3 linked regions of the Homo sapiens genome follow. The protein of the gene in region 3 purifies or fractionates together with the protein of the main gene of each other region. This does not show direct contact. Each region holds a gene or a part of one and is shown on either strand. Other genes may lie near its edges. The genes, in order: GRHPR, CD9 and CXADR.

The links.
Region 1: the proteins of CXADR (region 3) and GRHPR fractionate together in Homo sapiens (co-fractionation; one large-scale study listed by BioGRID). This does not show direct contact.
Region 2: the proteins of CXADR (region 3) and CD9 purify together in Homo sapiens (co-immunoprecipitation; one large-scale study listed by IntAct). This does not show direct contact.

What each region holds. Positions count from the first base shown.
Region 1 is NC_000009.12:37,425,562-37,429,214, forward strand, and holds part of GRHPR (glyoxylate reductase/hydroxypyruvate reductase), read left to right. Parts: intron 1-360; coding exon 361-433; intron 434-976; coding exon 977-1,093; intron 1,094-2,922; coding exon 2,923-3,011; exon of another isoform or gene 3,012-3,280; coding exon of another isoform or gene 3,281-3,371; intron 3,372-3,653. UniProt on the Homo sapiens protein: Enzyme with hydroxy-pyruvate reductase, glyoxylate reductase and D-glycerate dehydrogenase enzymatic activities. Reduces hydroxypyruvate to D-glycerate, glyoxylate to glycolate, oxidizes D-glycerate to hydroxypyruvate.
Region 2 is NC_000012.12:6,206,884-6,210,536, forward strand, and holds part of CD9 (CD9 antigen), read left to right. Parts: intron 1-3,653. UniProt on the Homo sapiens protein: Integral membrane protein associated with integrins, which regulates different processes, such as sperm-egg fusion, platelet activation and aggregation, and cell adhesion.
Region 3 is NC_000021.9:17,564,900-17,567,831, forward strand, and holds part of CXADR (coxsackievirus and adenovirus receptor isoform 1 precursor), read left to right. Parts: intron 1-528; coding exon 529-793; 3' UTR 794-2,932. UniProt on the Homo sapiens protein: Component of the epithelial apical junction complex that may function as a homophilic cell adhesion molecule and is essential for tight junction integrity.

The sequences.
Region 1 (3,653 bases), on a different chromosome or scaffold from region 3:
CACGTCCCAGCCACCTTCTTGGCACTCTCAGAGGTGTCCATGGGGGAGGCCCCAGCGTGGCTAAAGAAGACCGGAGGCCTCGCTGGGTGGACAGTCCAGTGGGTAAGAGCGGGGCCTTGGTGGCAGAGGCCCTGAGGTGAACCCGGCTCTGCCTGTGACTGAGCCAGGCCACTTAACCTCCCTGAACTGCAGTGTCTGAGGCTGTCAAAGGGGATTATTCAGAGTTTTAACTGAAGAACAGAGATGTCAGCCTCTTATTCTAAGAAAACAATAATAAGCGGTGTCCCCATGATAGTCCCCAGTGCTGTGGCTTTGAGTTCCTCGAGGAAAGATACTAACAATGCACTTTCTGCACAACAGGGGCCAATCTCAAAGTCATCAGCACCATGTCTGTGGGCATCGACCACTTGGCTTTGGATGAAATCAAGAAGCGGTAACTGCAGCTTGGGATCTGGAGGGGGCCTAGAGAGAGGGGTGGCTATGAGAGAAAGAAGAGCTGTTGATTTGTTTTTACTGCATATCCCTCGGCCATTCAGGGAGAATGTGAGGTGGCTGATGATAGAATCTGTCCACATGTGCACAGGTCAGTTACAATAAACCCCAGCAGTCAGAAACAGTGGGTAACTTCTGTGTAGGTGGCACCCTTTCACATTCATTATCTTTTTTGATCCCCACAACAATACCTTGAAGTAGCAAAGGCAGGTGTTATTCTTTCTGTTTCAGATGAGGAAATTCAGAAAGGTTAAGTTACTTGTTCAGTCCCTGAACCCTGATCTTCCATCTTCATATCCTTCCAAAGTGGGAGATAATCTAAATAGGAATGAGGACTGCCCGTTTTTGAGTGCTCATTTATAGTTCTGAGCTTCCTGGCAGGCAGATCAAAGAGGGAGCAAAGTAACTCCATGGAAATGTCCCAGCAGTAGACATTGGTAAATATGGTTGAGGCTGATGTTACCACCAGATGTCTGATTCGTAGTGGGATCCGAGTTGGCTACACCCCAGATGTCCTGACAGATACCACCGCCGAACTCGCAGTCTCCCTGCTACTTACCACCTGCCGCCGGTTGCCGGAGGCCATCGAGGAAGTGAAGAAGTAAGTGAACGCAGACCAGGTGCGGTGGCTCACGGCTGTAATCCCAGCACTTTGGGAGGCCAAAGTGAGCGGATCATGAGGTTAGGAGTTCGAGACCAGTCTGGCCAACATAGTGAAACCCCGTCTCTAGTAAAAATACAAAAAAAATTAGCTGGGTGTGGTGGTGGGTCCCTGTAATCCCAGCTACTTGGGAGGCTGAGGCAGGAGAATCATGTGAACCCAGGAGACAGAGGTTGCAGTGAGCTGAGATCACACCATTGCACTCCAGCCCAGGTGACGGTGTGAGACTCTGTCTCAAAAAAAAAAAGAAAAATAAGTGAACGCCTGGCAGGAACGTTGGCTCTGCTCAGCACTGGATCCTGATCACTGTGCCAGTCCAGCCCACGCATAGTCCCTGACCCCAGGTGTGCCCCATTGAGTGAGGACTCAGCTAAAATAAAGCACAAAGCAGAGCTGCAATAAGGGCAGAAAGGGAAGTGGTGAGAGAAGAGGATGAGGGAGGACAAACAAGTTCTGCTGGTGGGTGAGGGCTGGCAGGGAGAGTGTGGATCAGGGAGGGCTTCACAGAATAAGTAGCAGGTGGGCGTCCGCTTGAGTCCTGAAAGCTGCAGGTCCACCATCCCTTAGATCCCAAAATCTAAAAAGCTCGGACAGCTGAAAGTTCTTTCATACTAACAGGAGACTATTTAAGGCTTTTATTTCTCCCATTTAATGTGACTTTCCTAAGTTTTGCTGCAGATGTAACACTTTTAAAACAGGCTGCTGCCCAGACACTGCAGAGGGTGATGTGTGGAATCTACCACGTGCGCCATGCTGCCTTTCTAAAGGCCAAACAGTTTTAAAATCTAGCCTGAAGGTTTCAGATCAGGGATTTCGGCCTGTATATCAAGAGTTAGAGTTGGCCGGGCACGGTGGCTCACACCTGTAATCCCAGCACTTTGGGAGGCCGAGGCGGGCAGATTGTTTGAGCCTCAGGAGTTGGAGAACAGCTTGGGCAATGTGGCAAAAGTCTGTCTCTACAAAAAATACAAAAATTAGGCAGGCGTGGTGTTACACGCCTGTAGTCCCAACTACTCGGGAGGCTGAGGTGGGAGGATTGCTTGAACCCAGGAGGCAGAGGCTGCAGTGAACCGAGATCATGTCACTGTACTCCAGTCTGGGCGACACAGCAAGACCCTGTCTCCAAAAAAAAAAAAAAAAAAAGTTGGGGGAAGCATTCCATGTGCAGATGGAGGGACTGGCCCGAGTCAAGGTGGGAGGCGTGCAAACGCAGGCTCTCACAGTGCGTGGCCAGCAGCGTGGGCCCCGGCACGGGGCATGGAGCAGAGTAGACAGTGCTGAGTCCTGCTCACTGTCCTGTCTGGGGAGTCATCACATCTACTGGAGGTGGCTCAGGGCAGGCTCCATCTCTTGCCCAGGGCAGCAGGGTGGGCCCTGTGGCTGTACTCTTTGTTGCTGCCCTAAAGTGCCAAGAGAACTTGTTTTGGAATCATAAATCCTGAGTTTGCAGCCTGTTGCTCTCAACTCTTCCCTGGTTGTGTGACCTCAGGCAAGTCACCCTTTCTGGTTTGTTTTCCCATCTGCAAAACAGGATGAGAGCCAGTAAGGCCCCTTCCCGCCCTCAAGTTCTATGTCTCTGGTGGCTTTAAAGGTGGAGTCGTTTCTGCTGCTCATCTGCAGTGCCGAGTGGCAGTGCCTCATCCCACTCTCAGTCCGTGACCTGGAGGGTGGGTTTATACCTTGGACCACAGTCAGAGGTGCCGGGTTCTCAGCGGCCCCCATCTTGGTCCAAGGCTGGGCCTCTCACCTGCCCCTCTCTCTCCCCTCAGTGGTGGCTGGACCTCGTGGAAGCCCCTCTGGCTGTGTGGCTATGGACTCACGCAGAGCACTGTCGGCATCATCGGGCTGGGGCGCATAGGTGAGGCTCCCACCGGCCCGCTTGCCCGCCCCGGCTCTCACAGCGTGGTTTGCATCCCTGGCACCACGTGTCTGAAGGCTGAGAAGACCCACATGCTGTCAGGGCACTTTGCTTGCAGTAGAGATATCTCTAATGAGGGATACAGCTTTGTAAAACACAGGCAAATACATAAATAAACCAAAGCAGGATTCCTTAAGAACTCACCAGGTGATAAAAGCAAGTTGCCTAAGGGTCAGGGGGCTTCATGATTCCGGCTCCATAAAGAACAGATGAAGACTACAAATGTGTTGGGGCCGTTAGGAGTGGTTACCGTGAGAGAGCCCATTCCCCCGACACCTACTCCGGCTTGCGTTCTGGAAGGTATGTGACTCACAAAGCCCTAACTCGGGCCGGAGGGCTCAGTGGGCAGAGTTGATCTGCAGTTCTGCAGATGAGGCAGAGACACTTTTCTTCCAGTGGCCCTTATTTGGAGAAGCCTGGCAGAAGGGCGTGAGCCTAGCCAAGCAGCTATCTATTGGTGGTTCTCTGTCATCCTGCCTGGTGCAGGGGTGCGGGTGAGGGTGGAGAGTGTGGAGAACCTGTCTAGCCAACGAACAGCCCTGCCTCTCACTAGAGAGTTGCTTGGAGGAACCCAACAGCTTT
Region 2 (3,653 bases), on a different chromosome or scaffold from region 3:
CTGGAGGCCCATAGACATTTTTTTTTTTTTTGCCTTTTTCTCCATTGCCCAGGCTGCAGTATAGTGGCACCATCATAGTTCACTGCAGCCTCAAACTCCTGGGCTTTACACAATCCTGGCCTCAGCCTCTCAAGTAGCTGGGACTACAGCACACACCACTATACCCGGCTAATTTTTTTGTACAGAGAGGGTCTCTCTATGTCGCCCAAGCTGGTCTTGAACTCCTGGGCTCAAGCAGTCCTTCAGCCTCGGACTCCCAAAGCACTGGGATCATAAATGTGAGCCACCACGCCCAGCCTGAGCTCACGCTATAAATGCCCCATATTGGTTTTTCTCCCTCAGTTTCCAGACAACCCCTGCTCTGTCCTGAGTCCCATATTTCTGCCATAAGAAGCAGGTTGCCTCACCGTTCCCCGGGGGCTGCAATGGGGGCATCACAGGGGACTTTGTGAAAGGCATTAGAAATGATAAATTCCCTAGTGATCAAGTGCAGCTCAGATGGGACAGCTGGCCTCCCACCCATCCCTCTGACTCTCAGCTTAATCATTGCCTAAGGAGTGGTTTTCACTCGGTTAATTTAATGAGTGCTCTGTATTTCTAGTACACACGAAAAATGCAACTGTATGATCTTCCAGCCAGGTTGGGCCTCTTGGCTTAGCTTTTCCCAGAGCTTGGTGCTTCATCTTTGTTCAGGAAGAAAGGAGGTCTGTCTCTCTTCTCCTTCCCTCCAAATGCAGACGGAAAGTCTCGTCCTCTGAGGACTTGCAGAAAGGAGGAATGTCTCAGGAGGGATCATTTGGGGAGCTGCACTCCCAAGGAGTTGAGAAGCAGCCTGGTTGAGTAACTGGGAAAGGCAAAGCAGCCTGACTTGGAGAGGGGCCCGGATTAATGTGATTCCAGAGGAGGTCCCGGTAGAGAGAAGTTTGGGGACTACTGACTTGGAGAAAAATCAGAAACCCGGGTCTTAAGAGCCCTTCCTCTTCAATCCTTAAGCCAGGCATTGTGCCTGAGGGAAGAAATAGTGGCTCTTATGAGCTCTGCTAGAAAAGTAACCCTTCAGGCCAGGCGCGGTGGCTCACGCCTATAATCCCAGCATTTTGGGAGGCCGAGACAGGCGGATCACCTGAGGTTGGGAGTTTGAGACCAGCCTGGCCAACATGGAAAAACCCCCTCTCTACTAAAAATGCAAAATTAGCCAGTCATGGTGGCAGGTGCCTGTAATCCCAGCTACTTGGGAGGCTGAGGCAGGAGAATTGCTTGAACCTGGGAGGCGGCGGTTGCAGTGAGCTGAAATCGTGCCATTGCACTCCAGCCTGGGCGACAAGAGTGAAACTCCATCTCAAAAAAAAAAAAAAAAGAAAAGAAAAGTAACCCTTCACAGCTTACCCAATGCACATCCAAGTTTCCAGTGACACCTCTGAGCAGGCTAAGCAGCTGGTGGCTCCTGCCAAGCCCTCTCCTCGGAACTGAGCTTCACAGCTTCAGGTGCCAGTCCCTTGCTGACACTCCCAGTCTAAGCTGTGTGTTAGTCTCCAAGTTCAGAAACAACACAATACATGGGTCATAGGAGAAGAACCTCGACTGAGGCTAAAAATACCATAAAGTTAATCAGGCAGTTTTATTAATTATGAATTTATTAATTCAAAACCTATTCAAGGATTTTAGTTTTTTTTGTTTGTTTGTTTGTTTTTGTTCTTTTTTTTTTGAGGTGGAGTTTCACTCTTGTTGCCCAGGCTGGAGTGTAATGGTGCGATCGCAGCTCACCGCAACCTCCGCCTCCTGAGTTCAAGCCATTCTCCTGCCTCAGCCTCCTGAGTAGTTGGGATTACAGGGGTGTGCCACCATGCCCGGCTAATTTTTAGTAGAGACGGGGTTTCTCCATGTTGATCAGGCCGGTCTTGAACTCCTGACCTCAGGTGATCCACCCGCCTCAGCCTCCCAAAGTGCTGGGATTACAGGTGTGTAGTTTAATGTCTTTTAAACCTAAGTTGATTGAATGTAGTATGATAATACAGTGTACTGATTTATTAAAACTCTAAATGAAATGATCAGCAAAATCATACTATTTGTGAACTCATCATTGCTTTTTTTGTTGTTTGTTTTGAGACAGAGTCTCGCTCTGTCACCCAGGCTGGAGTGCAGTGGCGCAATCTTGGCATACTGCAACCTCTGCCTCCCAGGTTCAAGTGATTCTCCCGCCTCAGCCTCCTGAGTAGCTGCGACTACAGGCACATGCCACCACGCCCAGCTAATTTTTGTATTTTTAGTAGAGATGGGATTTCATCATGTTGGCCAGGCTGGTCTCACCTCAGGTGATCCACCCACCTCTGCCTCCCAAAGTGCTGGGATTATAGGCGTGAGCCACCGCACCGGGCTCGTCGTAGCTTTTCAAGTCAATAGAAATCTGGTGTTTGAATCCACATCATGTCTTCCCTTGTAGGTGGGCAGTTGCAGTGTGTAGTGTGCATGCACACCCCAGATTTATGCCCAACTCCACTGGATGTTTTCTGGGTGGGGAGTCATCCATACCTCCCTCAGCGGCCCCGTTCCTAGAGACGGGAGGCCCTTCCCACTAAGACATATTCCTCCTGCTCTCCATGGTGCAATGTAAACATCTTCTTTCTCACAATGTGGGACTGTGGATTTAAATTTATTATTGCTAAGCTCAGATGTTTTAAAGCTTCCTGTCTACAAGCCTGAGAAAATCTCTTCATACTCTCCTTTCCTCCTCTCTAGTCAAATTGTAGCCCTGGCTCCCTAAGACACAACCCTTTAGAGACCCAGACTGCAAATTTCTTTTTTTTTTTTTTTTTTTTTCTGAGATGGAGTCTCATTCTGTTGCCCAGGCTGGAGTGTAGTGGCACAATCTCGGCTCACTGCAACCTCTGCCTCCTGGGTTCAAGCGATTCTCATGCCTCAGCCTCTTGAGTAGCTGGGATTACAGGCATGTACCACCATGCCCGGCTAATTTTTGTGTTTTTAGTAGAGATGGGGTTTTGCCACGTTGACCAGGCTGGTCTCGAACTGCTGACCTCAGGTGATACGCCCACCTCGGCCTTCCAAAGTGCTGGGATTACAGGCGTGAGTCACCGCGCCCAGCTGGGACTGCTCATTTCAAATAGAAATTAGATTATCTTCTAGGATGAGGAGGGACACTTTGGCCTTCTTTGTCATGGGAGGCTGGCACTCTCCTCTAGGACCCTGGGGTGTGTCTTGAGAGCTCGTGCCCAGGGCTATAACACAGAGAGGCCTGTGCTGATGTCATCTTGTTCTGCCCTTTGCTGGCAGGGTGGTTCTGGGGAAGGGCAGAGGCTCCGGGTCCCACTCTGGGGCTGTTTTCACGGGGGATGGAAGGACCATGGCCACTGAACGGGCTGCGGTCCCGTCTATGGACACAATGCCAATGGGCAGCTGCAACAGTGCAGCCAAGGGGAAAGGAGGATGTGCGAGTTGCCCTGGAGAGTCCCTTCCCAGAGCGCCGCCTCTGTCCACCCTGACTATATGACCAGTGGAACCAAGGGTGTGGCTGAAGCTCTCAGGACAAAGGCCAGGGAGAGGAAGCACCGGCTGTTTTTTTTAGACTCTCTTCGAGCACCCACTACCCCCACTGCCCCCAAGCGAGGCCAGGTGTAGGTGGCATCTCCAGCCCAGGT
Region 3 (2,932 bases):
AATTTTTGTATTTTTAGTAGAGATGGGGTTTTGCCATATTGGCCAGGCTAGTCTTGAACTCCTGATCTCAAGTGATCTGCCCACCTCAGCTTCCCAAAGTGCTGGGATTACAGGTGTGATTAAGATAGAAATATACCTGTAGGTGTTAGTGTTTTCTCAACTATAAAGTGTTACATGGCTTTAACTAGATTGTCTTGACCAGTGATACTAGAATATGAAACTATTTGAGATTTGTGTTTTGTAAGACAACATTCTAGAATCATCTACATTTGTGTAAATACCATATTTCATTAAGTGTGAAGTTATAACTCTTTAATCAGAATGACAGATTGGAGACATACACAATTTATGACGTTATGGCTTGTGCTTTTTGCTTTTTTGTGACACACACACACACACACACACACACACACACTTTTATATGTTTAGTACCTAAATACAGGCTCTTATCCATGATTCATAGCTTGCATAATTGTAGGTTTTTAGAAACTTATTCTCTTGACATGTATTGGGGATTTTGCTTTGCAGGGAAGATGTGCCACCTCCAAAGAGCCGTACGTCCACTGCCAGAAGCTACATCGGCAGTAATCATTCATCCCTGGGGTCCATGTCTCCTTCCAACATGGAAGGATATTCCAAGACTCAGTATAACCAAGTACCAAGTGAAGACTTTGAACGCACTCCTCAGAGTCCGACTCTCCCACCTGCTAAGGTAGCTGCCCCTAATCTAAGTCGAATGGGTGCGATTCCTGTGATGATTCCAGCACAGAGCAAGGATGGGTCTATAGTATAGAGCCTCCATATGTCTCATCTGTGCTCTCCGTGTTCCTTTCCTTTTTTTGATATATGAAAACCTATTCTGGTCTAAATTGTGTTACTAGCCTCAAAATACATCAAAAAATAAGTTAATCAGGAACTGTACGGAATATATTTTTAAAAATTTTTGTTTGGTTATATCGAAATAGTTACAGGCACTAAAGTTAGTAAAGAAAAGTTTACCATCTGAAAAAGCTGGATTTTCTTTAAGAGGTTGATTATAAAGTTTTCTAAATTTATCAGTACCTAAGTAAGATGTAGCGCTTTGAATATGAAATCATAGGTGAAGACATGGGTGAACTTACTTGCATACCAAGTTGATACTTGAATAACCATCTGAAAGTGGTACTTGATCATTTTTACCATTATTTTTAGGATGTGTATTTCATTTATTTATGGCCCACCAGTCTCCCCCAAATTAGTACAGAAATATCCATGACAAAATTACTTACGTATGTTTGTACTTGGTTTTACAGCTCCTTTGAAAACTCTGTGTTTGGAATATCTCTAAAAACATAGAAAACACTACAGTGGTTTAGAAATTACTAATTTTACTTCTAAGTCATTCATAAACCTTGTCTATGAAATGACTTCTTAAATATTTAGTTGATAGACTGCTACAGGTAATAGGGACTTAGCAAGCTCTTTTATATGCTAAAGGAGCATCTATCAGATTAAGTTAGAACATTTGCTGTCAGCCACATATTGAGATGACACTAGGTGCAATAGCAGGGATAGATTTTGTTGGTGAGTAGTCTCATGCCTTGAGATCTGTGGTGGTCTTCAAAATGGTGGCCAGCCAGATCAAGGATGTAGTATCTCATAGTTCCCAGGTGATATTTTTCTTATTAGAAAAATATTATAACTCATTTGTTGTTTGACACTTATAGATTGAAATTTCCTAATTTATTCTAAATTTTAAGTGGTTCTTTGGTTCCAGTGCTTTATGTTGTTGTTGTTTTTGGATGGTGTTACATATTATATGTTCTAGAAACATGTAATCCTAAATTTACCCTCTTGAATATAATCCCTGGATGATATTTTTTATCATAAATGCAGAATAATCAAATACATTTTAAGCAAGTTAAGTGTCCTCCATCAATTCTGTATTCCAGACTTGGGAGGATGTACAGTTGCTGTTGTGTGATCAAACATGTCTCTGTGTAGTTCCAGCAAATCAAGCTGAGCTTTGAAAAAGTTTGTCTTAGTTTTGTGAAGGTGATTTATTCTTAAAAAAAAAAAAGAAAGAAAAAGAAAAAAAGATAAGAAGGAGGAGTAAAGGGACTACTCCTCCTTGCCAAATGTGCTAAATATCATTTTAGGAGAAGAAAGTGGGTTTATTGTATTTCCCTTAAGATTGTGAGGGAGTGTGGATACAGTAGAATGAGCCAACAGTTTCTTTATAATAAATACGGTCTGCAATAAATTATTTCACTAGCTCTAAAACCTTTCCCTAGATTTTAGTAGGGAGTTGGTTTCTGTTAATATCTTTGGGTGCTGTGGTGGTAAATGCTATATTATGAACGGTGGCATGTATTTACAGTTAGAGTATTGTGTGTACACTTTTTAATGGTAAACTTAAGCTGAATGTGTAATGGATTTGTGTATAGTTTTACATATTTGGAAGCATTTTAAAAACAGGTTTTAACCTTATGTAAAATTACTTTTATACTCGTGTTAACATTTTCATCTGTGCCTTTTGGTAATTTAATTTCTATTATGAATTTCTGGTGCCTATGAGCTAGCTATCACCTACCTGAAAGGTGCTTAGAGGTGAAGGTACTGTTTCTAAAAACACATCACTGTGATACCTTTCTATCCTCACATTTTCAAGCTTGCCTCTTTTCTGTTCTTTGTGGATATAACTTAAGCAATTGTGTTATTCATAAAGGTTTAGAAATTTCAATATTCCCAACACTCTATGTTTCTGATTTTATAACAGTAGCCATTTTTGAAAGTCAGATGTTTGGCCTGTTTTATATGAATAAAGTTTATTTATAAAATATTATAAAAAATAAGTAAATAAACAGAACATTAATAATAAAGTTTTGGTTCTTCCTATTCCTGACTTTCATATAATGAAAATTATCCTATTGATCTAAGTAGAAGTTATCAT